Linked DNA regions of Homo sapiens: region 1 is linked to region 2. Evidence: fine-mapped expression QTL. A gene starts in region 2. The other region holds a variant in brackets. All regions are shown on one strand. Distances are from middle to middle. Region 1 has its middle 6.4 kb from the start of DMKN. Region 2 holds the start of THAP8 (THAP domain containing 8).

The links. PIP is the estimated chance that this variant, and not a neighbour inherited with it, causes the effect.
Region 1: its variant is fine-mapped to the expression of THAP8 in atrial appendage (GTEx, PIP 0.99).

Annotation. Positions count from the first base shown.
Region 1 is chr19:35,518,600-35,521,507 of GRCh38, forward strand. No RefSeq gene overlaps it. Among named protein-coding and RNA genes, the nearest start is that of DMKN, 6.4 kb to the left of the region's middle. The variant G/T (reference allele first, on the strand shown) is at 1,494.
Region 2 is chr19:36,052,726-36,055,633 of GRCh38, forward strand. THAP8 (THAP domain containing 8) reads right to left here and starts at 1,560. Exons shown (of 4, transcript NM_152658.3): 1 at 1,410-1,560. The coding sequence starts at 1,492. It overlaps WDR62 (WD repeat domain 62), which reads left to right and starts at 2,172. Exons shown (of 32, transcript NM_001083961.2): 1 at 2,172-2,423. The coding sequence starts at 2,247.

The DNA.
Region 1 (2,908 bases), 530 kb before region 2:
GATTGCTTGAGCCCAAGAGTTCCCGACCAAGCTGGGCAACATCGTGAGACCCTGTCTCTACAAAAAATACAAAAATTGCCAGGGTGTAGTGACGTGTGCCCATAGTCCCAGCCACTTGGGAAGCTGAGGCACACGGATCACTTGAATCCAGGAGGCTGAGGTTGCAGTGAGCCATGATTACGCCACTGCACTCCAGCCTGGACAACAGGGTGAGACCCTGCCTCAATTAAAAAAAAAATGCCAGATGCAGAAACTTACTTTTAAAGAACACTCATTTGGAGCCAGGAGAGGGTAGCTCTCACCTGTAATCCCAGCACTTTGGGAGGCCAAGGCAGGCAGATCACCTAAAGTCAGGAGTTCGAGACCAGCCTGGCCAACATGGTGAAACCTCATGGCTACTAAAAATACAAAAATTAGCCAGGCGTGGTGTGCGCCTGTAATCCCAGCTACTTAGGAGGCTGAGGCAGGAGAATCTCCTGAACCCGGGGTTCGGAGGTTGCAGTGAGCCAAGATCGCACCACTGCACTCCAGCCTGGGCAACAGAACAAGACTCTGTCAAAAAAAAAAAAAAAAAAACCCACTCATTTGGATGTAGCCCCCTCCCGCTTCCTGGGGGTCGCAAGGGCAGCATGCCACCTCACTGCTAGAGATGTTCAGCAGGGAAGTGCCCTTGAACTGGAGCCTGGCCATCACCACTGACTAGCAGGGTGGCCTCAGGCAACACGCTCCGTTCCGTGCACCTCTTCTTCAACATCTGTGAGGGCAATGATCATGGTACTTGCCTCCCGGATGGTTGTGGGGATGAAATGAATCATGCCTGTAAGTGCTTAGCACAGACCCTGTAAAAGATGCCCGGTGAGAGCCACACCCAAACTCCTCTCCCTGTTCTTCAACATCCTCAGAAACCGGCCCTTCCTCTCTGTGTTTCTCCCTAGCCTGGCTCCACCCATCTCAGGCAAAGCAGCCTGTGTCTTGCTCACACTCGTTCCATGGCCCTTCCCAACCTGCTCAAGTCAGTGGCTTCCCTTCTGCTCCTTGCCAGACATTCATGCCTGGCCTTGACATCACTGCTTGAACCTCTTTGTCTGGGGGGAAATGGATACGATATTTGTAATATGATTACAGATTGTCATAACCAACAAGAAAAACAAGATCAGCGCTATGAGAGAGAGTGACAGGGTGGCCGTAGCTCAGGTTGAGCGGTCAAGGTAGCTGAGATGCAAAGGGTAGGGAAGAGCCAGTATGAGGGGCCGAGGGGCATGGAGAGTGTTCCTAGTAGAGGGAACAGCACAGAAGACCTCCAGGCAGGAGAGAGCCAGGCGTCTTTTACCCTCAAAACCGACTCAAAGCTCTCCTTTTTCAGAAGCTTCCCAGGACTGACTCAGTGCCTATCAATTATCTTGTATCTCTTTGGTATTTTCAGGACCCCCATCCAAGCAAACCCAGCAAGAAAATGTGCCTAAAAAATAGTCAGTCAGCCGGGTGATGGCCAG[G/T]CGCGGTGGCTCACGCCTGTAATCCCAATACTTTGGGAGGCCAAGGCGGGCGAATCAACTGAAGTCAGGAGTTCAAGACCAGCCTGACCAACATGGTGAAACCCCGTCTCTACTGAAAATACAAAAATTAGCTGGGTGTGGTGGCGCGCACCTGTAAGGGAGGCTGAGGCAGGAGAATTGCTTGAGCCTGGGAAGCAGAGGTTGCAGTGAGCCGATATCACCCCACTGCAATCCAGCCTGGATGAAAAAGCAAGACTCTGTCTCAATATATATATATACATACACATATATACATATATATACACGTATATATATACACACACATATATGTATATTTTTTTAAATAAAAATAAAGTCAATGAAAGCTTTTACTTCAAGAAAGAAAGAGTCCCTTGAATGTTGCCTTTTCGAAAGCCGCCACTATAGGATTCTTTTAAGTAGGGCCTCCCCCAATACCTGTGAGATGATGTCCAGCACGGAGCAGACCCTCAATCAGTATCTGACATGAATGGAAGGTTCTATTTATATCAGTGCAGCAAGCAGCTGGGTGCTGTGGCTCACACCTGTATTCCTAGCACTTTGGGAGCCTGAGGCAGGAGGATTGCTTGAGCTCAGGATTTCAAGACCAGCCTGGGCAACATTATGAGACCCTCGTCTCTACAAAAAAAAATTACAAAATTAGCCAGGCATGGTGGTGTGTGCTTGTAGTCCCAGCTACTTGGGAGGCTGAGGTGGGAGGATTGCTTGAGCCCAGGAGATTGAGGCTGCAGTTAGCCATGACTGTGCCACTGCACTCCAGCCTGAACGATAGACCAAGACTCTGTCTCAAAAAATAAATAAGACAAAATGCAGCAAATATAATGTTTACAGTTTACTTTGAAATACATCAAAAATGTTTGATATGGGGCTAAATGGACAGATGTGTGACCAAGCAAGTATGGTAAAATCTAAGTGGTGAGAATTCTGGTGTTCACTATAAAATTCTTTCATCTTTTCATGATGCTTGAAATGTTTTCAAAATAAAATATCGCAGGGGGAGGGAAGGAGCATATGTAATGAAATGATGGTATTCCACAAAATAAGGGAAAATGCAGTGACTATAAAGTGAGGAACGTCCCATTTTTTGCACAAATGCAGGCCCCTCCCCTTGCCGGTCATTGAGCTCTTATTGATGCGTGGCTTTGTGTGTTTGCATTCACATTCTGTTTATAGGCCTTGCCTCCCAGGAAGGCTGTGAATTCCCCAAGGGCAAGAACACTGTCTATTATTTTCAGTCCCCCATTGATGGAATTTTGTAGCTGGAAGCAACAGTTGTCGAATCCCTGCCTCCCTTTATACAGGAGGAAATCGTGGCCCCTAGAGGGGAAGTAGGCGGCCTTCAGGCATCTTGCTCCCGATTGGAACGCAAGTCTCCC
Region 2 (2,908 bases):
AATAGGGACTGCTTTTCTGTGTCAAAGTGACTTAGCTCCTCCAAGCAAAAGTGAGATGTTTCATTCTTACTTGATGTGATTTCAAACAGCAAAGTTTGTGATCATCTCTGACTTTAGACAACCAAAGTTTCCTACTAAGAAAGCAGTAGACACTCAAAGGATGGGAATTCTGCCACTTTACATCTGCAGTATGTCCAAGAGAAATATTTTTTCCTGGCTGGGTGCAGTGGCTCACGCCTGTAATCCAAGCACTTTGGGAGGCCGAGGCAGGAGGACTGCTTGTGCCCAGGAGTTTGAGACTAGACTGGACAACATAGGGTGATCCCATCTCTCTCTTTAAAAACAAAATTTTTTTTTTTGAGACGGAGTCTCACTCTTGTTGCCCACGCTGGATTGCAGTGGCCTCATCTTGGCTCACTGCAACCTCTGCCTTCTGGATTCATGCGATTCTCCTGCCTCAGCCCACGGAGTAGCTGGAATTACACGCATGAGCCACCACGCCCATCTAATTTTTGTATTTTTAGTAGACACGGGGTTTCACCATGTTGGCCAGGCTGGTCTCGAACTCCTGACCTCAGGTGATCTGCCCGCCTCGGCCTCCCAAAGTGCTGGGATTACAGGCGTGAGCCACCAAGCCTGGCAAAAAAAAAAAAAAAAAAAAAAAAAAAAAAAAATTTAAATTATCCAGGCATGGTGGCGCGTGCCTCTGGTCCCAGCTACTTGGTAGGGTGAGGTGGGAGGATCACTTGAGCCCGGGAGGTCGAGGTTGCAGTGAGCTGTGATCGTTCCACTGCATTCCAGCCTGGGCGACAAAGCGATCTTGTCTCAAAAAAAAAAAAAAAAAAAAGCAAAGAAATGTTTTTTCCTAGTAATTCTTCCACCAACTGGCTTATGTCAGCCAGATAAATAAGGAGACAGATCTTTTACAGTCGAAGCTAATTCTGACTTTCCCAAGTATGACGAAAGAGGTAAGGATGACATTTTTTAAACCTAAGCAACAAGAAGAATGAAGCACGCTACTAAGATAAGACAGACTGGAAGGTTTTGGGGAGACACGATCGCAAGCTCAGTTTCGGATGCTCTGAGTTTCAGATGGCTCAAATGCGTGGGGAGGGCAAGTGGGCATCTGCAGGCTCTCTAACAGCCTGCACCGACTTCACTTCTTACATCCCTTTCACTCTTCGGCTCGCTTCGCTCGCTATCTGTAGTCAATCGTCTACTCCTGTTTCCCACGCCTGCACCTTTGTATGTGCAATGGACACTGCCAGGAAGGCCATCTCCTCATGGTTTAACCCCACTTCCTAACACCCTCAAGCAAGACCAGAAGCCCCGCACAGCAGCACTAATGCTCGGGCCCCACCCCTCTCAGGGTCCCGCCTCCCTCAAGCCCCGCCCCGCGCTGCGCTCACTTGTAGAAGCTCACAGGGCGGTTGTCTGCACCCAGGCGGCCCGCAGTGTTGGAGCAGTTCGGCGCCCTGCAGTACTTGGGCATGGCTATCCAGCCCCCGCTGAGTTTTGCCGGGTCAGCGGCTGCACTTTGGTTCTCGCGGAGCGCCGCCTAACCCCGCCCCACCCGCGCTCGCCGCCTGCCTCACGTGACGTCCGTGGAGTCTCGTCACGTACCGGGGAGAGAGCTGAGAGCGCCTGCCTACTAGGCGCCCCTCCACAGTGCCACAGTCCCGCCCTCGTCACGTGACGAATGGGCCATAGCGAGTACTGTGCACCTGCGCAAAGCCGGCCCTTCGTCACCCCGACTTTCATCACGTGTTGGGGGGAAGGGCGGCGTCACGGCGTTTCTGAGCCTGCGCCAACCAAATCAACTGGCTAGTCAATCTCTTACGGCTCCACCCTACGCCTACATCCGGGCAACCGTTGGGGCGCACATAGTTCCTCTAGGTGGCGGCAAAAACCGAGGTGAGGCGGCCGTGGCCTTAGCCTCGTAAAAATTAAAACCTGTATGTTTCAGCGAATAATGAAAACGCAGTCTGGATGAAAGACCCCATGACGCTTAATCAGGCATCCAGTACACTGGCTGTGGCCCCGCCCCGCCAGGCACTCGCTCCGCCTCTTCGCCCCCATTGGTTCTAAGCGCCGCCCGGCATCCCTGCGATTGGCTAGGCCGGGCCCGTCGCGTCCAATAGGCGGTGGCGCCGGCTTTCCCGCGGCTGTTCGCTGTTCCAGTGGGTCGTGGCGGTGGCGGCAGCGGCGGTTAGGGGATGTAACGGTCGCCCGCCTCCGGCGTGACGATGGCGGCCGTAGGGTCCGGAGGCTATGCGCGGAACGATGCAGGGGAGAAGCTGCCCTCTGTCATGGCGGGAGTTCCGGCGCGGAGGGGCCAGTCCTCCCCGCCCCCCGCCCCACCAATCTGCCTACGGCGGCGGACGCGACTCTCGACGGCCTCCGAGGAGACGGTGCAGAACCGGGTGAGAAGCTGCTCGCCATGTCTACCCCAGTTCCAGGCTTCCTAGGTTTCCCCTAGTCCCGTCCTGAGAACTGTGGCCCCGACATCAGCCCCCGGCCAGTCCCCTCAGGTTGTTCCCTGCCATGCCTCGTCCCCTAACCCCCGCCCCTTTAGCCACGGCCCCTCCCACTTTCTCCTCGCTGCTTTCCCGGCTCCACCCTCAGCGTTGGAGCAATTCGGGGGTTCCTCGCTGGTTCCCACCCGTGGAAATGCATTTTGCTTCTGTAAATCACAGCCTAGTCCTGCTATATTTTAACCCCCGTTCTATCGCCTTTAGACGTCACGATCATAGCTCACTGCAGCCTCACTGCCCTGGCCCCCGCTGAGTCATTAAGGTCCCTTCGAGGGTTCGGTCCAGAGTGTTACCTGCCCCAACTCTTCCTCGCTTCTACCCCGCCTTCTCTCACCTTCTGCGATCTCTATCCTTTTTCCTCACCAAGGTGGGAT